5 separate regions of the Homo sapiens genome follow, and regions 1, 2, 3 and 5 are each linked to region 4. Evidence: fine-mapped expression QTL. A gene starts in region 4. Each other region holds a variant in brackets. All regions are shown on one strand. Distances are from middle to middle. Region 1 has its middle 8.2 kb from the start of ZNF141. Region 2 has its middle 6.6 kb from the start of PCGF3. Region 3 overlaps ZNF732 (zinc finger protein 732). Region 4 holds the start of MYL5 (myosin light chain 5). Region 5 overlaps PDE6B (phosphodiesterase 6B).

Evidence for each region.
Region 1: its variant is fine-mapped to the expression of MYL5 in prostate (GTEx, PIP 0.99).
Region 2: its variant is fine-mapped to the expression of MYL5 in whole blood (TOPMed, PIP above 0.99).
Region 3: its variant is fine-mapped to the expression of MYL5 in whole blood (TOPMed, PIP above 0.99). The same link has a PIP of 0.9 or more in lung.
Region 5: its variant is fine-mapped to the expression of MYL5 in whole blood (TOPMed, PIP 0.96).

Annotation. Positions count from the first base shown.
Region 1 is chr4:327,074-332,245 of GRCh38, reverse strand. No RefSeq gene overlaps it. Among named protein-coding and RNA genes, the nearest start is that of ZNF141, 8.2 kb to the left of the region's middle. The variant G/A (reference allele first, on the strand shown) is at 2,082.
Region 2 is chr4:696,657-701,828 of GRCh38, reverse strand. No RefSeq gene overlaps it. Among named protein-coding and RNA genes, the nearest start is that of PCGF3, 6.6 kb to the left of the region's middle. RefSeq lists an enhancer at 535-1,035. The variant T/C (reference allele first, on the strand shown) is at 2,121.
Region 3 is chr4:279,271-284,442 of GRCh38, reverse strand. The region is part of intron 3 of ZNF732 (zinc finger protein 732); the gene reads left to right. Among named protein-coding and RNA genes, the nearest start is that of ZNF732, 24 kb to the left of the region's middle. The variant C/T (reference allele first, on the strand shown) is at 2,814.
Region 4 is chr4:672,114-677,113 of GRCh38, reverse strand. MYL5 (myosin light chain 5) reads right to left here and starts at 2,572. Exons shown (of 9, transcript NM_002477.2): 1 at 2,431-2,572; 2 at 905-1,041. It overlaps ATP5ME (ATP synthase membrane subunit e), which reads left to right and starts at 2,838. Exons shown (of 4, transcript NM_007100.4): 1 at 2,838-2,902; 2 at 3,148-3,202; 3 at 3,713-3,811; 4 at 4,595-4,678. The coding sequence starts at 2,867. The coding sequence ends at 4,614. It also overlaps a transcript of SLC49A3 not described here. RefSeq lists enhancers at 2,002-2,071, 1,949-2,706 and a silencer at 2,282-2,551.
Region 5 is chr4:628,755-633,754 of GRCh38, reverse strand. All of the region lies in intron 1 of PDE6B (phosphodiesterase 6B), which reads right to left. Among named protein-coding and RNA genes, the nearest start is that of PDE6B, 5.7 kb to the right of the region's middle. The variant TTG/G (reference allele first, on the strand shown) is at 2,512.

The DNA of each region.
Region 1 (5,172 bases), 340 kb after region 4:
GGTAAAAATAATTCTGTCAAAGATGCCAAGAAATTCCAATGGAGGAAGTTTGTTCAACAAATAATGCTGAGAAATCAGTTTTCATTGTGCAAAAATGAAGAATATACATCCATATATATTAAATGAGAGTAAGTGAATACCCATATAACAATAGAAAGTATTAATTAAATTATTTTTACATATAAAAGCTCAGTGTCAAATTGCATTAATTCTGAATTTCACTGACATTTAATAAAAATGTAATATAATTTTTTCACATAAACTTTCATCAATGGCAGAGGTAACATTTTTCTATTAATTTACTAGCTAGGGGTACTGTGATACCAAAGCCAGACAAAAGAATCACAAGTAAAGAAGACTATGGACTAAAATTCCATATAAATATAGAATTCCTGATGAAGTTATTAGAAATGTTAGCACACGGCTGGGCATGGTGGCTCATGACTGTAATCCAGCACTTTGGGAGGCTGAGGCAGGCGGATCATGAGGTCAAGAGATCAAGGCCATCCTGGCCAACATGGTGGAACCTTGTCTCTACTAAAAATACAAAAATTAGCTGGGCGTGGTGGCGCGCACCTGTAGTCCCAGCTACTTGGAAGGCTGAGGCAGGAGAATCGCATGAACCCAGGAGGCAGAAGTTGCAGTGAGCCGAGATTGTGCCACTGCACTCCAGTCTGGGTGACAGAGCAAGACTCCATCTCAAAAAAAAAAAAAAAAGAAATGTTGGCACACTAAATCCAGCAACATGTAAAACTGATTACATACCATAACCAAGCAATAGTTTGTCACAAATGGAGTGTTGGCTTAATATTTTTAAAATCAACCAAAATATTACAAAATGTTACTTGAACAATAGAAAAAAGTGTCAATGTAAATAAGCAAAAAAAGTATAAAAAATCCAGCACCCGTTCATGATAAAACACTCAGAAATCTAGTAGAAAGGAACTTGTAAGACCTGCTAAAAAGCATCTATAAGAAATCAATAGCTGGCTGGGCACGGTGGCTCACATCTGTAATCCCAGCACTTTGGGAGGCAGAGGTGGGCAGATCAGGAGGTCAGGAGTTTGAGACCAGCCTGACCAACATGGTGAAACCCCATCTCTACTAAAAATACAAAAATTAGCCAGGCGTGGTGGTGTGTGCCTGTAATCCCAGCTACTCAGGAGGCTGAGGCAGGAGAATCGCTTGAACCCGGGAGGCAGAGGTTGCAGTGAGCCGAGATTGAGCCACTGCACTCCAGCCTAGGCAACAGAGTAAGACTCTGTCTCAAAAAAAAAAAAAAAAAAAGAAATCAATAGCTAATAGTATACTTAACGGTAGATGATTGCAGGCTGTATCTGTAAGTTTAAAAATGGAACAAGAATGTACACTTTTTCCACTCTGTTTTTACACTGTCCTGGAAGTATTAGCCAGAAAAGTATACTAGAAAAATAAATAAAATCTTCAGATTAGAAAAGAAGTAGGATACTATTATCTTGCCATAATATTGGGTTAAAAACTATGATAAATTTACCAAAAACATACTTCAGTTAATAAAAAATTTTATTAATGTCACAAAATACAAGATTAATAGACAAGGTTAAATCTTTTATATAACAGCAATCAACATACTGAAAATTAAGAACAAAATGTAATAATAATATCATAAAAACCATTTAGGTATGTGGGCAGCAAGCCACCCAGGTGCCGAGGCAAGAAACTGAGGGCACGAGCTGTTCCAGTGTAATAAAATATATAAAACAACAAGAGTTATACTAGATATAGATCATAGATATGATTATATATGAATATCAATCATTAGTTTGTAGCAATTACTCTTTATTCCAACATTATAATAATCCTTGCTCTATAATTATAACCTAGGAAAAACCAGGCCATACAGAGATAGGAGCTGAAGGGGGCACGGTGAGAAGTGACCAGAAAACAAGAGTGCGAGCCTTCTGTCATGCCCAGACAGGGCCACTAGAGGGCTTCTTGGTCTAGCGGTAACGCCAGCGTCTGGGAAGATGCCCATTACCAAGCAGACCATGGTCTAGCTGTAGCATCAGTGCCAAGGAAAAGCACCCGCTACTTAGCAGACC[G/A]GGAAAGGGACTCTCCCTTTTCCCAGGGGAGTTTAGAGAAGACTCTGTTCCACCACCTCTTGTGGAGGGCCTGACATCAGTTAGGCCTGCTCGCAGTTATCTGGAGGCCTAACCGTCTCCCTGTGATGCTGTGCTTCAGCGGTCACGCTCCTGTTTCACTTTCATGTTCCACTCTGTACACCTGGCTCTGCCCTCTAGACAGCAGTAGCAAAATTAGTGAAAGTATTAAAGTCTTTGATCTTTCTGAAAAGAGCGTAAAAGAAATAATGACGTAAGCTGTCCTCTCTCTCTCCGCTTCGGCTACCTAACAGGGAAGGGCCCCCTGTCCAGTGGACACGTGACCCACGTGACCTTACCAATCACCGGAGATGACTCGCACTCTTTACCTTGCCCCTTTTGCTTTGTATCCAATAAATAACAGGGCAGCCAGGCATTCGGGGCCACTACCGGTCTCTGCGTCTTGGTGGTAGTGGTCCCCCGGGCCCAGCTGTCTTTTCTTTCATCTCTTTGTCTCGTATCTTTATTTCTACGATCTCTCATCTCCGCACACGGAGAGAAAAACCCACAGACTCTGTGGGGCTGGTCCCTACATAGGTATATATATATATATATATGTATGTATGTATGTATGTATGTATGTATGTATGTATGTATTCGAGACAGAGTTTCACTCTTGTTGCCCAGGCTGGAGTGCGATTCATGATCTTGGCTCACTGCAACCTCCACCTCCCAGGTTCAAGCGATTCTCCTGCGTCAGCCTCTCAAGTAGCTGGGATTACAGGCATGCACCACCATGCCTGGCTAATTTTTTGTATTTTTATTATAGACGGGGTTTCACCATGTTGGCCAGGCTGGTCTCAAACTCCTGACCTCAAGTGATCTGCCTGCCTCAGCCTCCCAAAGTGCTGGGATTACAGGCATGAGCCACTGTGCCCAGCCTGTTATTTCTGTCTCTTCTGGCTTGTAGGGTTTCCAGTGAGAAGTCTTGCGGGGGTCCGACCCGCTGACCCTGACTCAATGACGGATGAACAATGTATACTGATGCAGATATTCTGCTTTGCCAGTGCAACTGAGGGTCCAGGCTGCCTCACAGACTAACAGAGGTGCTGTAGGGAGTAGCAGCCGCCACACCAACCAGCCAGCGAAACTTGCATTTATTTGGTAAAGATTAAGTAACAAAACTTTGAGTAAACACCACTAGAAGGTAATTGACATTGCCGACTTCGCGAGTAGAAAGCAATTAAGCACCCAAGATCAAAGGTTAGTCTGAGGACCACATGAGTAAACAAGGTAGTTAGATAAACTACTCTACATCCGTTTGTATTTGTGCCCTAAGTTAATAACTTAAGGTAAAGTGACCAGGCCGCCTTCAGCCAGATCTATTACCGAAGTTTTGCAAAACCCTCAGGCCTTCCAAGAGGGTTTATGGCTATTATAACTAAAACTTTTTTCACCAGTCTGTCTGAACCCCCACAAGGTCTGCTGTTAGTCTGATGAGCTTTTCTTTGTAGGTGGCCTTGCCTTACTCTCTATCTGCCCTTAAGATATTTTTATTTCATTTTGACCTTGGAGAATCTGATGATTACCTGTCTTGGGAGTAATCTTCTCATGGAATATCTTAGTGGGGCTCTCTGCATTTCCTGCATTTGAATGTTGGCCTGTCTAGCTAGGTTGAGGAAGTTCTCCTGGATGATATCCTGAAATATGTTCTCCAATTTGGTTCAGTTCTCCCCATTTCTTTCAGCTACCCCCATCAGTTGTATATTCACTCTCTACACAATCCCATATTCTAAGGTTTCATTCATTCCTTTTTTTTTTTCTTTATTTGTGTCTGCCTGTTTGATTTCAGGAAGACAGTCTTCAAGCTCTGGGATGTTTTTTCCTCCGCTTGGTCTATTCTGCTATTAATACTTGTGATTACATCGTGGAGGCCTTGTAGTGTGTTTTTCAGCTCTATCAAGTCGTTTGTGTTTCTCTTCTTACTGGCTATTTTGGCTGCCAGCTCCTGCATTGTTTTATCGTGATTCTTAGCTTCGTTGCATTGAGTTACAGTGTGCCCTTTTAGCTCAGCCAAGTTCATCTGTATTCATATTCTGAAGCCTACTTCTCTCATTTCAGCCATCTCAGCCTCAGCCTGGTTCTGATCCTTTGCTGGACAGGTGTTGCTGTCAGTTGGAGAAAAGGGCACACTCTGACTTTTGAGTTTTCATCATTTTTGTGCCACTTCTCATCTTTGTGGGCTTATCTATTTCAATGTGTGAGATTGCTGACCTTTGGATAGGGTTATTGTGGTTATTTTTTGTTATTTATTGTTTTTCTTTTAACAGTCTGACCACTGTGTGTAGGGCTGCTGTGGTTTTCTGGAGGTCTGCTCCAGACCCTGGTGCCCTTGGCTTTTTCAGTATCTGGAAGTATCACCAGTTAAGGCTGTGAAACAGCAAAGATGGCAGCCTGCCCCTTTGTCAGGTCAGAATGCATACTGACCTGTTGCCTGCCTGAACACACCTGTAGAAGGTGGCTGAAGGCTTTGGATTGGAGGTCTCACCCAACCAGGAGGAATGGGGTCAGCAGCCTACTTAAAGAAGCAGTCTGGCTGTGTTTTGGTAGAGCATCTGTGCTGTGTTGTGGATTCCTTCAGCTCTCAAATGGTTTGGGCTATCCAAAGCCCACAGTCTGCACTAACTTACCTGCCCAAACAGCAAAAATGGTGGCCCACCGCACCCCCTGGGCACTCCATCCCACGGAGAAATTAGAACTCTATTGGCCTTAGAACTTGGGCAGAAGTAGATGGAGGCCCTGGCTGGGAGGACCCGCCCAGCAAGGGGGAATGAATTGGGGTCCCACTTAAAGAAGCAGTAGGACTATGCTTCAACAAAACAGCCATGGCATGCTGGGGAACCACCTCTGCCCAAATCTGCTTGGACTCTCCAAACCCTCAGGCTTAAATGGCTTAGTCCCCCAAACAGCCAAGGTGGCAGGGCGCCCCTCCACCATGGGCATTCCATCCCAGAGAGAAATCAGAACTCTGTTCATAGAATATGGGTGGGGCAGCTGGAGGCCCCTGCTGGGAGAACTCACACAGTGAGGGAAA
Region 2 (5,172 bases), 25 kb before region 4:
CTAATTTTTGAATTTTTAGTAGAGATGGAGTCTTGGCATGTTGGCCAGGTTGGTCTCGAACTCCTGACCTCAAGTGATTCACCTGTCTCGGCCTCCCAAAGTGCTGGGATTACAGGCATGAGCCACCATGCCTGGCCCCTGTCTCTTAAAAAAAATAAAAAATAAAAAAATAAAAATAGGTGGGGTGCAGTGGCTCATGCCTATAACCCCAGCACTTTGAAAGGCCGAGACTGGTGGATCATTTGAACCCAGGAGTTCAAGACCAGCCTGAGCAACATGGTGAAACCCTGTTTATACTAAAAATAAACAACAACAAGTATCTGGGCATGGTGGTGCATGGTGGTGTGCATCTGTGGCCTCAGCTCCTTGGGAGGTTGAGGTGGGAGGATTGCTTGAGCCCAGCAGGTGGAGGTTGCAGTGAGCCGAGATTGCACCGCTGTACTCCAGCCCAGATGACAGAGGAAGACCCTGTCTCAAAATAAAATAAATAAATAAATAAATCCCTGTGGATTCTGGGAAGATGGTGGCAGTAGCAAGAATTTTGTATCTCCCCGAATTCCCTCATGAGACTCATAAAACTACAAGGCAGATCAAAACTGAGGTGCACAGCACTGACTGCAAAGCCAGAAGATGACGTATTTTCACACCAGGGGGAGGCAAAGCTCACAGCCTCAATCTCTGTGCCATCGGCATGTGTGTGCAGGGCGTGAGTTTACCCTCTTTCCCGAAGCAGCTGAAACAGTGGACAAAATACATCCAACGATCTTCAGACACTGGGCATCAGGGAGCACAGGACATGGTGCCTGAGAGAGGAGCAAATGGGGCGAGGCCTAAAGGAAGCCTCCTGGCTGCAACTCAGGGAGAGGAGCTGGGCGGAGGAGGCAAAGCTGGGAGTCAGGGAGGCCCACACACCAGAGTCCACAGGGCAGGGACGGAGAGGAGGGACTGCCCACAGCCAGAGCTCCAGGATGGGGCAGGCATGTGGGAGCTGCCCGGAGCTGGCAAGGACTCTGGAAAGAAGCTGGCGGAACAGGGCTGGGAGTCTTTGCACCCCCTCCGGCCCCAGGATGTCCTCGTCGTCCCAGGGGCACCAGGCAGGGCGGTCAGCTGTGGGACAGGAGCGAACTCTGCGCTGGTCCAGACTCCAAAGCTCAGAAGGCTGGAAGGACCAATGTGTCTCCAAGTAACTTGACTTTGTGTCCAGAGCAAAACACAGGGATATTTAATAGGAATGCAAATATACTCAGAACTCAACAGGGAAAGTGAACAACGCCTGCATCTAATCAAAAGTCATCAGACATGCAAAGAGGAAAATATGACCCGCGACGAGGAAGAAACTCCATCAGTGTGCGCCGGCCACGACTGAAGCCACTGATTGAAGCACAGTAAGGATGCTTGCACCACGAATGCATAATGCCACTGAAAAAGCTGCTGTGGATGGGTTCTGGGGCGCCAGCTTGTTATTTACAAAACTGGTGAAGGGTGGGCGTCAACCAGCCTCTCATCTTCCCTTATGCACACGACACCTCGGGGTGGCCAAAGATCTGGCGAGTGCTGGCTTCTCTCTAGGAACATTGCAGCTGGTAAATGAAGAAAGTATAGAATAAACTCTCCCCCGTCACAGCCCCAGTGAGATAATGACACAGGTAACAACCGTCATTGATATGAACATTACCAGAGAGACAGCCGGATGTCATGGGCCTCCTGGTAGGAAAGCGACACGGCTACAACGAGATCTTGCTTAAAAATCCACCCTGAATACAGGTGCAGCAGGTGCTCCGTCCCCCCACCCAGCCTCGCCCCTCTGGCTGCTCCGTGGGAGGCCCCCCAGTGGGTCTTCGTCCCAGGCCTTCTCTGGCTGGGGCCCACGGTGCAGGGGGAGCTCTCCCAGGGACTCAGGCAGCCCTGGGATGCACCTTTTCTTCAGCGTTGCTGTTTCTTCCCATTTCACACTCTCTGCCCCTTTCTGACTCCCTAAGGTGGTCGCCCGAGGAAAGATCCCAGCCCAACCCACCCCAAGCCCCTTAGCTCAGGCTCTGCTTCTTGGGGACCCACACTAAGACACTGATTAGGCCTCCGGGTCTCACACTGATTTATAGAATTCGGGGACAGGCGGGAGA[T/C]GCCTTGGAATGTCAGCAGAAACTCTCAGGACTAGGAACTGTTTCTTCCACAACCAGCTGTGCAGGGGATTGAAGAAGATACAATGAGAGAAACAATCGAGAGGAAGTGAGTGTAGACCTATGGCTTGATTTGCATCCTGAGTCACGCAAACTGAAAACGAAACGAAGCACATTACGCAACAATCGTGGTGAGGGACACTGATTAGATATTTGGTAATGTTGAAAATCAGCCGGGCCCGGTGGTTCACGCCTATAATCCCAACCCTTTGGGAGGTCAAAGTGGGTGGATCACCTGAGGTCAGGAGTTTGAGACCAGCCTGGCCAACATGGTGAAACCCCATCTGTACTAAATATACAAAAAAAATTAGCTGGGCGTGGTGGTGGGCACCTGGAATCCCAGCTACCTGGGAGGCTGAGGCAGGAGAATTGCTTGAACTCAGGAGGCAGAGGTTGCAGTGAGCCAAGATAGTGCCACTGCACTCCAGCCTGGGCGACAGAGCGAGACTCCATCTCAAAAAAAAAAAAAAAAAAGATTGCCGCCCTCGCTTGCTGCTTGTGCCGCCTGCCCACCTCAGGCGCCCTTCAGTCTCCTTCCACTTCTCCCTCCAGACGCCAGGCCCCTCTGGGAGCCGGAAGTGCCCGCAGGTGCCCTGCAGAGGAGGCCTCATGGGAGTTTGTTGGGTGAACGCATCAGTGAATGCCTGTTTCAATCAACCAGGTGGAAATCTTGGAAATAAAATTTATAGTCCTGGACACACACGAAAACCAGTCCATGAGGTAATTCACAAACCAGTTGAAGAGCTTGGTGTGGCTGTAAGTGACGCTGCTGAGGACAGGGAGGCAGGGAAGCAGTGGAAGCGCAGGGGAGCCAGGCAGGGCTGAAATCGCAGACGTGATGATCTCACAAGAGCAGAGGAAGAGAGAGTCGTGAGGAGCTTCAGACTTGAGGACTAACCTGACTCTGCAGGTGGAGACGCAAACACCGTGCTAGGAACATGCTCGGACGCCTGGTAGGATGCCGGATATGGGGAGGCAGGACGCCCACAAAAGAGTCAGAAGAACCAGACCCTGAGCAGCTGGCACATCACCAACAACTGAACCCAAGTATCATTTAACCATCGCCGGAGAAATAATTCCAGCCGTTCACCTGTGTGTGTGTGTGTGTGTGTGTGTGTGTGTGTGTGTGTAGTTTTTTGTTTTGTTTTGTTTGTTTTCAGACGGAGTCTCGCTCTTGTCCCCCAGGCTTGAGTGCAGTGGCGCGATCTCGGCTCACTGCAACCTCCGCCTCCCGGGCTCAAGTGATTCTCCTGCCTCAGCCTCCTGAGTAGCTGGGATTACAGGCATGTGCCACCATGTCCGGCTAATTTTTTGTATTTTTAGTAGAGACGGAGTTTAATTTTGTATTTTTAATAGAGACGGGGTTTCACCATGTTGGTTGGGCGGGTCTCGAACTCCTGACCTCAGGTGATCCGCCTGCCTCAGCCTCTCAAAGTGCTGGGATTACAGGCGTGAACCACCGCGCCCGGCCTGTGTGTGCGTGTTTTTACACAAAACTAAAACTCAGCAATGACCACCAGAAAGCTGCGTGTGGTGTGGTGAGCAGGGAGCACGCTCTAAAGCCCCGGCCTGCTCAGAAGAGCCTGGAGACACTGCATGGACTTGGCCTATCTTGGAATAATGTGCAGTTAACTGTGTAGGTTAAACATCGAATGTCAACGGCCAGGCACGGTGGCTCGCGCCTGTAATCCCAGCACTTTGGGAGGCTGATGCAGGCGGATCACTTGAGGTCAGGAGTTTTGAGACCTGGCCAACATGGCAAAACCGTCTCTACTAAAAATACAAAAATTAGGCGGACGTGGTGGCACATGCCTATAATCCCAGTTACTTGGGAGGCTGAGGCAGGAGAATCCTTTGAACCCGGGAGGCGGAGATTGCAGTGAGCCGAGGTCGTACCACTGCACTCTAGCCTGGGCGAGAGAGGGAGACTCTGTCTCAAACAAACTAACTAACTAACCAATATAGAACACACCGCACAAAGAGCATCCAGTGTGGACTTCAGGATGGACTTCGGTTAAGAAGATCGTGTCGATATCGGTTCATCAATCCTAACAAAAGTACCAAACTCATGCGAGATGTAGATAACAGGGAAGTGGAGTGCAGGGTTTGGGGGAGAGAGGGGTATATGGGAACGCCGTACTTTCTGATAGATTTTTCTGTAAATCTAAAATTGCTCTGAAACATAAAGTCTAATAATTTTAAAAAGCAAATAAATGTAGCCAAAGAGTGCAAAACTAATATTCTGAAAGCTACAACTACAAACCATGACCAAAAGAATCTAAAGAAGGTCTAAGTAAATGGAAAGATGTCCTGCGTCCGTGGTGGGAAGACAATATTGTTAAGGTGTCTCCAACCTAATCATTCAACACAATCCATATCAAAGTCCTAATGAGCTTTTTTCAGAAATTGACAAGCTGATCCTAAAATTTATATGGAAATTCAGGGGACTCAGAATAGCCAAAACAACCTTAAAAAGAACAAAATTGGTTGGGTGCAGTGGCTCACGCCTGTAATCCCAGTACTTTCGGAGGCCGAGGCAGGTGGATCACCTGAGGTCAGGAGTTCCAGACCAGCCTGGTCAACATGGTGAAACCCCGTCTCTACTAAAAATACAAATATTAGCCAGACGTGGTGGCAGGCGCCTGTAATCCCAGCTACTCGGGAGGCTGAGGCAGAAGAATCGCTTGAACCCAGGAGGTGGAGGTTGCAGTGAGCTGAGATCGCGCCACTGCACTCCAGCCTGGGCAACAGAAGGAGCTCCATCTCAAAAAGAAAAACAAAACAAAAACAAAAAACAAAGATAGATGCTCATTTCCAACATATTCAATAAAAATTTGATAACATACACAAAGTAGTTATGCCACACTATACACAAAATGTTAGATATCAGTCATACCCACAGAGAAATTAGACACATACACTACACACAGGCATGTGCGCGCGCACACACACACACACACAATACCTACCTGCCAAAAGACAGGCAAAAACATTA
Region 3 (5,172 bases), 390 kb after region 4:
TAACATTCTGTCTTGGAACTGCTTTTGTTACATTCTACTTTTGATATGTCCTATTTCTATTTTCATTTGTCTCAAGATACTTTCTGATTTTTCTTTTCTTTTTCTTCTTTGACTCATCAGTTGTTCAGAAGCATGTTGTCTAATATACACATATTTGTAAGATTTTCAATGTTCACTCTGCTATTGATTTCTCATTTATAAAATTGTAATTTAAAAACTTGATATGATTTCAGGCTGGGCTCGGTGGCTCATGCCTATAATCCCAGCACTTTGGGAGGCTGAGGTGGGTGGATCACGAGGTCAGGAGATCGAGGCCATCCTAGTTAACAAGGTGAAACCTTGTCTCTACTAAAAATACAAAAAAATTAGCCGGGCGTGGTGGCGGGTGCCTGTAGTCCCAGCTACTCAGGAGGCTGAGGCAGGAGAATGGCGTGAACCCTGGAGGCGGAACTTGCAGTGAGCCGAGATCGCACCACTGCACTACAGCCTGGGCGACAGAGCAAGACTCCTTCTCAAAAAAACTAAAAAAAACACAAACAAGTTGATATGATTTCAGTCTTTTAAAAAATGAAAAGACTTGTTTGTCTTTGTTGTGGGCCAGATTTATGATGTATGCTAGAGAATATTCCATGTGTGTTTGAGAAGAATATAAATTATTCTTTTGGATGAAATGTTCTATATATATGTCTTTTGGTGCAGTTGTTTTATAGTGCTATGCAAGCAATTGTTTTCTTACTAACTTTCAGTCTGAATGATGTATTAAGTAGGGCAATATAGTCCCCCAGTATTATGTTTTTCTGTTTCTCCATTTCTTTTAATATATGTTTATATATTTATGTGCTCCAATATTGGGTATATATATATTTTTAATTGTTATATTCTTTTGACAGATTAGCCTCTTATCACTATATCATGAAGTTTTTTTTTTTGTGGCAGATTTTTTTTAGAAGTCTATTTTGTCTGATGTAAATATAGCCACTTCTATACTCTTTTAGTTATTACTGGCATGGAATTTTTTTTTCATCCTTGAACCACTAACCTATGTATTTCCTTAAATCTAAAGTAAGTCGCTTGTGTGCAGCATGTTGTTGATTTTTTAAATCTATTCAGACATTTCGCGAGTGTTTTAGTTTATTTTTTGCATCAATAACAATATCCTACAGTTGGTAATTTATAAAGAATAGAAGTTTCCTTAGCTCACAATCTGGGATGCCAAGAAGTCCAAGAGCATGTCATTCCCATCTGATGACAATCATATTTCCACATCACAACACGAGCTCACTTTTATGATAGACCCACTCATGATGACTAACCCACTCGTGGAATAATGATACTGATCCTCTCATGACCTTATAACTTCTTAAAGGCCTCACTTATTAATTTTCTCACAATGGCAGTTACATTTTAACATGAATTTTGGAGGGGGCACTCAAACCATAGCAATGTGATTTTATTGGCTAACTAAATTTTTTTTATATTTAAAGGAATTACTGATTGATAAGAACTTATTACTATCATTTTGTTCATTGTTTTCTAACCATTTAGTAATTTCTGTTTTTTCTTTCATGCTGCCTTCCCTTGTATGGTGTTGAGTTTGTTTCATTTTTCTTGTTATATGCTTTAATTTCTTTTGTGTGTATGTATCTTCAACATTTTTTTTTTTGTAATTTCCAAGGGACCATAAAATATCTCATAGTTTAAAAAGTCTAGCTTAAGGTAACAATCTAACTTCTTTTTTACCCACATAGGATCTTACTTTGTTTCCCAGGATGTAGTGCAGTGGTGGGTTCACAGCTCAGTGCAGCCTTGAACTCTCCAATATCAAACACTTTTCCCATATCAGCCTCCCAAGTAGCTGGGATTACAAGCACATGCCACCATGTCCAGCTAATTTTTTTGGTATTTTTTGTAGAGACAGGGTTTTGCCATGTTGCTCAGGCTGGTCATGAACTTCTGGGCTCAAGAAATCTACCTGCCTTGGCCTCCCAGAGTGCTAGGTTTATAGGCATGCATTATCAGGCCCAACTGCTTCTTTTTAAAAAAAGAATAAATAGCTTTCTGAAATCTTTATTTTATTTTATTTATGTATTTATTTTAGAGACAGGGTCCTGCTATATTGACCAGGCTGGTTTTGAACTCCTGGCCTCAAGCAAAAGTGAACTTCTATGTATAAAAATATTAAACAGTTTTACTCCTTTCAACACACTATTTATGTCACACTTTACATCTTTTTATATTATATACCATTAACAAATTATTGAAGCTATATGCTTTATTCACTTTTTTAAAAAAAGTCTATTTACGAACTTTCAAATGACTTTTAAGTTTGTTGATTTTTCCCCTTCTGTATAACTGAGTCTCCTGTTAAAGCTTTCTGTTAAATATTTTAGTTCTACTATTGTGTACTTCAGCTCCAGCATATCGCCTTGGTTCTTTGTTAATGGCTTATCTTTCTTTATTATCATTGGTTTTCTTCATGCATTGTTGCAAAAAATTTAGTAATATGTGTACTTTTGCATCTTATCGAGATTTTTAAAGATAATTATTTTAAATTCTCTGTTAGCCATTTTTTAGATCTGTGTTTTATTGTTAGTGCTTCCTGGAGCATTTTTAGTTTCCTTTCATGCTGTTATGTTTGCCTGATCCTTCATAATTCATGAGGCTTTGTTTTGATGTCCTTGCATCTGAAGGAGTAAATACCTCTTTCAGTCATTATAGACTAGTTTGAGGAGGTAAATATCTTCTCCCATTGGATTTCTGGGCTGATGAGATTTCCACTGAGGTTGCAATAAAGTGCTTTGGAATCCGGGTCA[C/T]GTAGCTACTACTGGGTTTGCAGTGAAATTCCTGCTTGGCAGACCTGTCATCAGGGCATCAGACAGTTGTGGATTCTATTTTCTGAGAAGACTGAACTTTCTTCAAGATGTTGATCAATATGACTGGCACTGAGGAAAAAAGCCTCCAGTTATATATGCAGATTAAGGTGCTGATACAATCAATGTGAGCAGGTGTGGCTCCTGCTGTGTCGCTCTTGCGAGGTGTTTGGAAATGCTCTAACCTAGTCATTGGACAGGTTCCTAGATGAGCAGTAATGACCCTTGATCACAGCTGAGAGGGTATGAAACTGATTCATGCGGCTGCTTCAGGATACACAGCTGAGACCAAAGTGTTCAGGTCTTTTTCTGGGTTAACGGTATTTCTCCCTGTGGATTTCTAGGTGGGTAGGACTTCTTCCAGACTCTAGATGACAGAGACCAGAGCTTGGTTATAGGACTGCTTTACAATTCACAGTGGGAATAAAGTCAGCCAGCATGCCTACAGGGGCACATACAGGTGTGCTTTTTGGCAGGTCCCAGGTTAGGAAAAACTTCTTCTGGACTTGGTTGCATGGACTTGGAGCCAGCTTATAGTGCCACGTCAAGATCCACTGTCAAATAATTATTGGCAAGCCTACATTCGGGCACAGATGGATGTTTCTCTCTGTGGGTGTCTGGGCAGGATTCCTTCCACACCATGACTGACATGTGTAAAGAGTGGATTTGGGGCTAATTCAGAGATCACAGATAGAACCAACTTCTAAAGGCCTTTCACCTGAGGCATAGAACATTAGAAATTCTCCTAGGTGTCTTTGCAGATGGTGCTAGTAGCAGGAACAAAACCAAATGGTCTGCAGCTAAGTCTACAATGAAAATTGGACACATTTTATTCTGTAGCTGGGACTGTGATGGGCAAGCATGCCACTCAAGCAAGGGCATGCCTTTTCAATACAGCCCTCCTCAGTCTTGGGTTCACAACCCTTGACATGGATTCCAAAGCTCCCATAAATTTCCTTTTTCAGGACATAACTGCTGCTTTTTTTTGGCAGAATTTTTTGCTCTTGTTGCCCAGGCTGGAGTGCAATGGTACCATCTCAGCTCACTGCAACCTCTGCCTCTCGGATTCAAGCAATTCTCCTGCCTCAGCCTCCCGAGTAGGTGGGATTACAGGCATGCGCCAGCCACCACACCCGGCTAATTTTTTTGTTTTGTATTTTTAGTAGAGATGGTCAGGCTGGTCTCGAACTCCTGACCTTGAGATCCACCTGCCTCAGCCTTCCAAAGTGCTGGGATTACAGGTGTGAGCCACTGCAGCTGGCCGTTTTTTTTTTTTTTCTTACTGCTGTACATTGCATGTCAAAGATTCAAAATGCTGGATCTTCATAAGTACATAGTCACAGTTGAAAACTGTAGTTGTTTGAAGGATTGTTTTTATGATACATCTACATCTATATTCTATATTTTATAGGTCAGAATTTTTTATTGTTTTCAAACTCTATTTTACTGGGGAGTCTTTTTTCATGTAGGTTCTCCTCAATTATTTTTTGTTTTTAATCTTCATATTTGTATGGTAATTTTCAACTCTGTACCTTTTATGACCATGTGGTGTTTAATTCAAATAAAAATCATTGGGTTTCACTTGGAGCAATTTAAAATATATGTGTAATTCAGACATTTCTATAGCCTATAAAAGTTATCTATGTGGTGTTTGCCTGTGTAAATAATGCCCCTACCTGGTTTATAAATTTTTCTTTCTGGTGGTCATCACTGTTTTCTTTTATAGGTGAGTAGTCAAAGAAACAGTAAAAAATTACCACCTATTTATTGTTTGAGTATATGTTATTCTGTGAGAGAAACACTTTTTATTTGAAGGTGATTTTTGAAAAATGTAACCTTTTTAGGTAGATGTAAATATTTAGTTGTGATGAAAAACCTAACATTGCTTAAAGGTTTTCAAGTGTACAGCCTAGTGGAGTTAAGTACATTTACATTATTTTGAAATGGATCTCTAGATTAATTTTATCAAAGTAAAGTTCATACCTCATAAACAATAAACTGCCATTTTTTTCTCTTCAGGTCCTGAAGAACACCATTTTACTTACTATTTCTATAATTTTGACTGATTTTTATATTCTTATTGGTGTAATTATATAATATAATGTCTGGTTGTTGTTTTTTTTTTTTGAGACGGAGTCTCGCTCTGTCACCCACGCTGGAGTGCAGTGGCGTGATATTGGCTCACTGCAAGCTCTGCCTCCCGGGTTCACGCCATTCTCCTGCCTCAGCCTCCAGAGTAGCTGGGACTACAAGCGCCCACCACCACGCCCAGCTAATTTTTTTTGTTTTTGTATTTTTAGTA
Region 4 (5,000 bases):
GCCCCTCGGTGCTGCAGGGGCAGTGGTGGGAGTGACTATATGCAGCCACAACAGCAGGTGGGATCCCTGGGGGCGCCACCGTGTCTGCAAGGCTAAAAAGACAGGTGCCACTTGCATGTCTCTTGAGCAGAGGTCCTACCCCCTGAGGGACACATGGTCACAGTTGGCGTCCCCTGAGATGCTGCCTGGTGCCATCCCCAGGTCCAGCGGCCTCTATGAAGCACTGACTCCTGAGGTTGAGGACCCTGGAGGCATGACCTGCCCAGGAGGGACCTGGGGCCGACTGCAAGGTGTCAGGTGACCAGATGTGGAACCCTGGGGCTGGGAGCAAGGGCCAGGGCATCCCCTGCTGCCAGTCCAGTGGGGTCTGGGTGTGATCCTGAAGGGGCACTGCTGGGCTGCAGGAGTGGGGAGAACCACACCGAGGGGGGAAGCATGGTTGGGAGGCCCCCCGAGGCCACCGGGAATGTGAGAAGGGCTGCAGAGCCCCCTGCAGAGGGTTCCCAGGCCACTGGAGTCTGAGCACAGTGCTAAAGATAGCAGCAAGCCTGAGCCGGGGGAGTATCGGCTTCTGCACCCACAGCTGACCTGACAGCTGCAGAGGCCCCTGCGGGCGGTGTGCTGAGCCAGGTGGGACCCGTCCCACCACTAAGCTCTCAGGAAAGGCCTTGAGCAAAGGCAAGTCTCCATTGGCTTCAGGGGGTTTTCCCCAGGCCGTGTGTGTTTGCCCGCATGTTTTCTCTGCTGGTGCCCTGCCCCGCCCCACCTCTGGTGGAAGCTGCTGGTATGTCCCCCTCACCCCCTACCTTGGGCCCCAGAGACACTTATTTTTGATTCTGGAAGCAGGAGTTGCTGAGGAGTCTGGATTATTTTAAACTCCAGTGAAGGGAAAACCCATTGTCACCTGAGGCCGTCTGCCCTGGCGGAAGCGGGGGCTTGCCGAGGGCCAAGATGGTTCTGTGCCTTGTGGATCCAGTGTGCACCTGCGGCTTCCTCAGCGAGCAGTAGACACGGGGAGGGCTGGAGTTTGCTTCTGGCCCCCTGAGGACAGGGTTCAGGCAGAGGCCTCAGGCAGGAGTCTTCAGGGACTGCCAGCCAACCTCACAGAAGCTGGAGAAAAGATCAGGTGGCCCTACAGCAAGTACCTAACCTTTTTGGCGCCTGGGACAGGTTTCACGGAGGACAGTTTTTCCGTGTTGGGGAGGAAGGTTTCGGGATGAAACTATTCCACCTCAGTTCATCAGGCATTAGATTCTCACCAGAGCGCAATCCAGATCCAAGTGCGCAGCTCACAGTAGGGTTCACGCTCCTATGGGAATCTGATGCCCAGGCTGATCTGAAAGTGGGTGGAGCTCGGGCAATCATGCTCCCTCACCTCGTCCTGTGCTGCCCGGTTCCTAACGGGCCACAAGCTGGTACTGGTCTGCACCTGGGGGTTGGGGACCCCTGCCCTATAGGACTGGCCTTGGTATACCCAGCTCAGGAAACAGAGCCCAGTGACTTCCTAGTTTCTCAGCCAGAGAGGCCCAGGCCCTGGACCCCAGAGCAAGCCAGGAGAGGGGGCAGAGGCGACTTAGGCCCGGACAGGTAGCCCAGGCCGCCAGGATCACGGGTCCTCCCCATGCTTGCTTCAAGAGTCCTGGAGTTTGTGATGCTGCACCTTAGCGAGACCCGAGCCATAGTTCTCCAGTTGCTTCTGCCTGTAGCAGTGCAGGGCCAGGAGGGGACACAGGAGGCCTTGCGTCACTACTGCATGGGGCCAAAGGGGGCCCGAGGGTGGCCCAGCACGGGCAGCATGGCTGCCGCCAGGAAGACCCAGAACGTGGAGGGGGTGCCAGGCTCCTGCCTAGACTCCAAGCCTGGTGTCCATGGGGCTGGCGGGTCAGCACTTCGGGCACAGCGGGGAGGCTGCATAGGCACCGCAGGCCCCATCTCTGGGCAGCTGTGGGAGACACACAGCTACCGGGAGGTGGACAGAGGCCAGCAAAGACCAGTGTGGGGCTCAGTGGTCCCCAGGCCTGGGCCGGGGCAGGCCCTTGGAGCCGTGGAGTCCTGAGGCCTGGAGTCGGGGGACCCAGGGAGCAGCCTCTGTTGGGGGCTGGTCTTCCCAAGAAGATCCCAGCCCCTCTTCGGGACAGAAGTGATGGGGCATCCTGGGGTGAGGAAGCTCCAGCTCCGGGATGAAGGGCGCCCCGTGCTCCCGGGCAGAGCAGCCGCAGGAAGAGGGGCCTGGAGGCCATGCTCCCGCGGGCCGCGGAATCCAACGCGGCCCGGCCGGCGACAGACACTACTGCCTTGTAGGAGAAGGACCTGCCCGGGGAGCCACCTGCACTCGGCTCACACTCCGCTCCCAGGACCCCCAGGTCCCTGCCCAGGCCACCCTCGGGTGGGCGCGGTCCGCGGGGCTGGACCCGCCCGAGCCGCCCTGACCTCAGGCCTCCGACGCTCCGCGCAAGAAGACAGAGTGCGCCCCGGCCCGCAGTCTGGGGTGTGGACACACGGCCAGGACGCGGACGGCGGGGCCTCGGCAGCAGCGCGGGGAAACAGCGGACCCCCAGCCCTGCGGGGAAAGGAAACCCCCCGCCCACTCGGCGCAGATCCCGCCTCACGCAGCAACTGCGCAGGCGCAGCCGATGATCCTCCGCGCACTCCCCAGCCTTTGTGCGCGTGCGCCTCACGTGACGTCACCGCCGCGCGGGGGCGCGCAGTCACCCTTCGGTCGCCAGGGGGCGCGGCCCCCCGCTCTCTCGCCGCTGACGGCGCATGCGTGCGCCCAGCTCCGCCTTTGCCTCCAAGGCTTTGCTGGCTTGTGCGGCATCCTGCTCCGTCTGCAGGTTGTGCTTCCGGTGCGGAGGTCAGGGACAAGATGGTGCCACCGGTGCAGGTCTCTCCGCTCATCAAGGTGATCCAGGCTTTGCAGCCGCCGCCCAGTGCTCTGGGCCCCCCCGTGTCCCGCCCCGCAGCTCCGACCCCGCGGGCTGCGACCCCCGGCCCCCGCCCCCATGATCCTCGCCCCGTGACCCTCGCCCGGCGACCGGACCCCCACCCCTCCTGCGACCTCTGCCCAGCGACCCCGCCCCCCCTCCTCCCGCGACCCCCGTCCCGCGAGCCCCGTTTCGCGCCGCCTCTGACCAACCTCTTTCGCAGCTCGGCCGCTACTCCGCCCTGTTCCTCGGTGTGGCCTACGGAGCCACGCGCTACAGTGAGTGACCGCGGGCGGGGCCGGGGCGGGGTCTGCTCGGCTTTCCTGTGGAGCTCCTGTGCTATTTGGAGAACTCCAGCTCTGGAAGGGGGCTTGGGACGCATGCGAGGCTGCAGGACCGTGTCCTCCACCGAGCGTGACCCCGATAGTGGAATCAGCTCACCCAAAGCTCAGGCTTCTGAGGCCCGGGCGGGGGACTCGAAAACGGCTGCTTCTTGGTGAAAACGGGTGCTAAATGGCTGTTCGAGTGCTGAGGTCTTGATGGGAGGCAGTCCCTGTTCGCAGAGGACGAGTGAGCCAGTGCGTGAGCGGGTGGGCAGCAGGGGCCCTGTAGCCTCTGGGTTGGACTCGTCAGGGTGAAGGTCAGGCGTTGACTCGCATTAACATAAAGAGCGGGAACAGCAGGTGCGTCTGGTTTACAGCGTCGCTGAAGATACCTTGACCTGTGGACTCAGTTCCTTTTGTACAGCATTTCCAGTGAATTTTATTCTCCTGCATTCCGCCAAACAGATTACCTAAAACCTCGGGCAGAAGAGGAGAGGAGGATAGCAGCAGAAGAGAAGAAGAAGCAGGATGAACTGAAACGGATTGCCAGAGAATTGGCAGAAGGTACGAGTGACACTGGCTCTTATAGATTGTCCCTCCCAGGTTTGTGCAGGGATAAGGAAAATGGAGGAGGACATTTAAGCAGAGCTAAGTAGATGCGGATTGTTTAAAAATGGGGAAGCTGGCCAGGCGTGGTGGCTCATGCCTGTATCCCAGCACTTTGGGAGGCCAAGGCGGGCAGATCACCTGAGGTTAGGAGTTCAAGACCAGCCTGACCAACATGGTGCAACCCTGTCTCTACAAAAATTAGCCGGGCATGGCCCGGTGCGGTGGCTCATGCCTGTAATCCTAGCACTTTGGGAGGCTGAGACAGGCAGATTGCCTGAGCTCTGGAGTTCGAGACCAGCCTGGGCAAGATGGTGAAACCCCATTTCTACTAAAATACAAAAAATCAGCCGGGCATGGTGGCAGGCACCTGTAATCCCAGCTACTCAGAAAGCTGAGGCATGAGAATTGCTTGAACCCGGGAGGCGGAGGTTGCAGTGAGCTGAGATCACGCCACTGCACTCCAGCCTGAGCAGCAAAGTGAAATTCTGTCTAAAAAAAATTAGCCAGGCATGATGGCGGGTGCATGTAATCCCAGCTACTCAGAAGGCTGAGGTGGGAGAATCGCTTTAACCTGGGATGCAGAGGTTGCAGTGAGCTGAGATTGCGCCATTGGGTGACAGAGCGAGACTCCGTCTCAAAACAAAAAAAAAAAAAAAAAAAATAACTGGGAAGCTGAAGTGGTCTTTTTAGGTTGCCTGAGTGGTAACATGTGCTTTTCTTCTAACCTTCCGGCCCAAGATGACAGCATATTAAAGTGAGTGACCCTGCGACCCACTCTTTGGACCAGCAGCGGATGAATAAAGCTTCCTGTGTTGTGTGATACTCCGGCTCCTCATTTGCTGTCGCTGGTTGTGGAATTCCTAGGTTGAAGTTCTGTCCACCTCCCAGTTCACGTGAGGTGGAAGACAGGGAGGGGGTTTCAAAAGAATCCACATTACCATTCACAGACCCAGAATGCATCATGTAAACACAGTGGGAAGGACAGATGCGCGCTGCCTGTTCTGTCTGGGGCATCCAGGTGGGGAGCCCCAAAGGCCGTCTGTAATGGAGTCAGTCAGCTGGGGGCCTCATGAGTACTGGGGTTGTCTTGATTCTGAGTTCTAGGCTGCTGCTCTCAGCAGCCCAGACCCCTGGATGGGGAGGG
Region 5 (5,000 bases), 43 kb after region 4:
GACCCAGGTGGACGGCTCCGGAGTCAGCCCTGCTGGGGTCAGGACTTCCCACCTGTGCGACCTGCAGTGGGCACAGGGTGGTTCTGTGGCCTTCTCCTCACCAGTCAATGGGGCAAAAATAACAGGCTCTGCCCTCAGCCACTGCGCCAGCTGAATGGGAGCTCCTGGGATGCGCCTCACATCTCCTGCTGTTTCTAGGGACGGTGGCCCTGCAGCAGCAGAGGGCAGACTCCTCGCAACTCCCCTCCACCCCCTTCCCCTGCAGCAAGGTTGAGAGGTCAGAGGAAGCCTGCTGGGGGCTGGCCGAGGTGCTAGCGTGCTCCTAAATGGCACCCACCCTTCCTGCTCCTCATTTCCTGATTCTTGGAGATACAGCTGCTGCCCATAGCCATGTGGGCTGGCATTGAAGGAAAACCAGCATTTAAAAGATGGTGGAGCAGGAAGACGGGTGAGTGAGCCCTGGCAGGGGTGGCAGCGTGGGCAGTGGAGCCAGCATCCCTTTATTGGATCTGAAACAGGGATGGGCCCTGAGGGAGGGCTCATCTCACCACCTGCAACCCCTGAGGGCTCATCTCTGCACCTGCGTCCCCCGAGGGCTCATCTCTGCACCTGTGTCCCCTGAGGCCAAGCACAGCACACTCCTGCCTGCTTGTCGTGGTGCCTGTTGTGCCTGTGGCAGTTTGGACAGTGTCTCCTCCACCAGCCGTCAGTGCTACAGTGGCCACCATGTGTGCTCCCTGATGAATTCAGAGTCTCTGTTACTGTTTCCCTCCCTTTCTACCTGGAGCCCATCCTTTTACCCATCCCTTGCCAACCTCACTGACACCCTCACCTGGGGTCCTTCCCTGGTTGCTGATCTTCACAGCATGACACCTGGACATATACCAGTGATTATGGAAAGAGCACAACATGACCCTCAGACGGCACCACACAGATCCACACAATGTGACCCTCGGCACCATGCAGATCCACACAACGTGATCCAGAGATGGTGCCACATGGATCCACACAACGTGATCCAGAGATGGTGCCACACGGACCCACACAACGTGACCCTGAGACAGCACCACACAGATCCCCACAATGTGACCCCCAGACAGCACCACGCAGATCCACAGGTGATCCAGAGATGGTGCCACACGGATCCACACAACGTGACCCTGAGACAGCACCACACAGATCCCCACCATGTGACCCCCAGACGGCACCATGCAGATCCACACAACATGATCCAGAGATGGTGCCACATGGATCCACAAAACGTGATCCAGAGATGCTGCCACGCAGATCCACACAACGTGACCCTGAGATGGCACCACACAGATCCCCACAATGTGACCCTCATAACCCTCAGACGGCACCACATGGATCCACACAACATGATCCTCAGACGGTGCCTCATGGATCCACATGTGATCCTCAGATGGCATCACACAAGATGACCCTTAGATGGTGCCACACACAAATCCACACAACGTGACCCCCAGACAGTGCCACACGGATCCACACAGCATGACTCTCAGCTGATACCACATGGATTCACATAACGTGACACTCAGATGGTGCCACACAGATCACAGCGTGACACCTGGACATATACCAGAGATTCTGGAAAGAGCACAACATGACCCTCAGATGGTGCCACATGAATCCATGCAATGTGACCCTGAGATAGCAGATGGTGTCACATAGATCCACACAGGATGACCTCAGATGGTGCCATGCAGATCCACACAACATGACCCTCAGATGGTGCCACATGAATCCATGCAATGTGACCCTGAGATAGCAGATGGTGCCACACAGTTCCACACAGGATGACCCTCAGATGGTGACACATGAATCCATGCAATGTGACCCTGAGATAGCAGATGGTGTCACACAGATCCACACAACGTGACCCTCAGATGGTGCCACATGGACCCACACAACGTGACCCTCATGACCCTTTGATGGTCCCACACACAAATCCCCACAATGTGACCCTCAGATGGTGCCACATGGACCCACACAATGTGACCCTCATGACCCTTTGATGGTCCCACACATAAATCCACACAACGTGACCCTCAGATGGAGCCACATGGATCCACGCAACGTGATCCTCATGACCCTTAGATGGTCCCAAACACAAATCCATACAATGTGACCCTCAGATGGTGCCACACAGATCCACGCAACATAACCCTCAGACAGTGCCACAAGGATCCACACAATGTAACCCTCAGACGGTGTCACACAGATCCACATAACATGACCTTCAGACAGCGCCACAGGGATCCACACAATGTAACCCTCAGACAGTGCCACAGGATCCACACAATGTGACTCTTAGATGGAGCCACACAGATCCACACAAAGTGACCCTCAGATGGTGCCCCATAGTCACACAGGCTATGGTTGATCAATGTTCAGCCTCACTTCTCTTGCCAGCTTTGTCTCTACCAGTTTCTTCCTGGATCTCAGACCTGACTCTGTCACTTCTCTCTGCCCCACACGTTTTCACAGCTC[TTG/G]TTTCACAAAGAAAGTATGGGAACAGCCACAGAGCCTTCCTGCCTCTCTCTTGTGGCCTACCCTCCACCCAAGAACCTCACCCTATTTGTCACCTTCTCTTCTTCATAGTCTCTCCCCATCCTGGGATTTAAGCGCACTCAGGACTCTGTAAAATGCTCTCTCAGCCCGTTCGTCTGCCGTCTTTTCTCCTTCACAGCTGCTCCTGGGTCCCCTGCCTTCCTGGCTGCGTCACTGGTCTCAGCAGGCACCTGGCTCCATTTCAGCTGTCCCAGCTGAGGTGGGCTGCCGTTACCATCCTTATGCCGACAGCTTCTCTCCTTCACCACTGGCCCCATTCACTCCCTGGTCCTTCCAGGCCTGTGCCAGATACACCCTTGGTCCCAGCACTGAGACCTTCACGCTGAGGCTTTGTGACTGCAGCCTCTTTGTGTCTCACCAGCCCCCACACCCTTAGGACCGAGAGGAACAGCTCCTTAGAGGTCCAGAGCAGGCAGCCGGAATTGGGGCTTGGCCACCGCGGAGGTTCTGCCAGAAGCTATGCTCCTCTGAGCAGCTGGTTTTGAGTGAGGTTGCCCCTCGTTCCTCCTTCCCTGTACCTTGTCAGGCTTCTGCGAGCAGCTGGCCCAGCCCAGGGGCTCCCCAGGAACATCTGCTCCAAACCCTGGCTTGCACTCTGCCCTCTGCCCTCCTCAGCTTCCCTAACACCACAGGGAATGTTTACTTTTTTGTAAGTCTGCCATCGAGACTGCAAAGAGTCCCACGCGGAAACATCCGGCCACTCTCTCACTGACACCTGCTCTCCTTTCCCCAGCGTCTGGTCACTCTGCTGCCCTTGCATGGATGGGCACTCGGTACCAGCCGGGCCACAGCCACCCTGGTCCCAGCCTGGCTGGTGCAGCTTCCAGCCTCAGCGGCTCCCTCCCGCTGCCCCTCGTGGCCCAGCAGCCCGACCCCAGCCCAGCCTTCACTTCCTGAGATGACAGCCCTGCAAACTCCCCTCGGCCACAGGGATGGATCCCTCGGCCTCCCTGTCCGACTGCCAGCTGCCCCACCCATTGTGAAATGCAGCCACACCATCGTGTGTCTGTCGGTGAAGATTAACACGTGGCCCCTGCTGGCCCCCCGTCTCTCCTCTCTGGTGCCCTCTGGGTTCTGTGTCCCCTGTAGTGATGCCTGGCCGGGGGGTCCTTGCCTGCTGGTCTCTTCCTCTCCACTGTCCAGTCTGGGCTTCCCTACTTCCCCAGAGGCTCCTGGTCAGACATGCCAGGAGCCTTGTCTGGGAGCAGGTGGCAGCTGTGGACTCTCAGGCTCCTGGGAACCCCCTGCATTTGCTCTGCCTCTAGCAGGCCTGGGGGCTGTGTGTGCTCACATAGCCGAGCAGCTGGGCCTCGCTCTGGGGCCTTCACACCCACTGTGGCTTCTCCAAAGCACCTCCAACTGCCCAAGCCCCACACCTCCTCTGCCGTCTGTGCTCAGCATGGCTGACGGCCGGTCCTGCCACCCTCCTCCCTCTATCTCCGGATTCCCACCCAGCCCGTGTTCTCAACGCCCCTGCTCTGTCCAGCCTTGTAGAGACCACCATAGGACTGAGTCGAAGGGTCTTGACTGCTGGCGACGTGCAGGACCCCGTGATGAGGTGTTTTGGGGCAGGGGGCAGGGGACCCACCAGGGTCCCGGGACGGGCCTTTGGGATGGGTTCCCATGACGGTCCCAGGGAGAGGAGCTGGAAGGTGGTGGAGGCTGAGGCTGCATGCACAGCACTGCGGGGTCCGTGGCTGTTCGGCTGGGGCTGGGCTCAGAAACCGCTGCACAGTCAGAGCTGGGGTGTGAGTCCTGCCCCGCCACTTGGTGGCCGTGGCCGAGCCCCACCAGCCCACCAGGATCGTCCATCCCAGCTGCCCTCGCTGTGAACTCTTGCAGGTCTGAGGAGCCACAAAGGGGTGATGGGGGGGCTGGTGGCTTCCCCCTCATCAGGTGTGGGCGGCGTCCCTGCCCGGGGTGCACAGCGGGGGATGGGGAAGGCCATGCCACCTCACAGGCCCACTCGCTCCTCCCTCTCTGCACCCGACCTGTGCTTCCTTCCTGCCAAGAGGCTTGTCTAGGAGCCATGAACACTGGGTAGCTGGGCAGGGCCTCTCACCCGGCTGGCCCATTGGCTTCTGACATGTTGGGAGGGATGGAGGGGGGCCTGGTGTCCGCCTTCTGGGACCTGTGGTTCCTGAGCCCAAGGTTTTAGGGTTCACAATCCATGCCCAGGCCTGGGCCAGGCTCCAGGAAGGTTGTGCTCAGTCCTGAGTCCCGGCAGGGCCCCCCTTGTGCAGGCCCTGGGATTCGCTGTGTCTCCCCAAGGGGCTGCCGTGACACACAACATGTGTAGTCGTGGGGTTCTGGGAGCAGACAGGGACTTGGAGCCATCAGCTGAAGCCCTGCACCTCCCAGAAGCTGGTCCCACGTGGCCTGGCACCGCCTGGGCTCCCTGTAGGCCC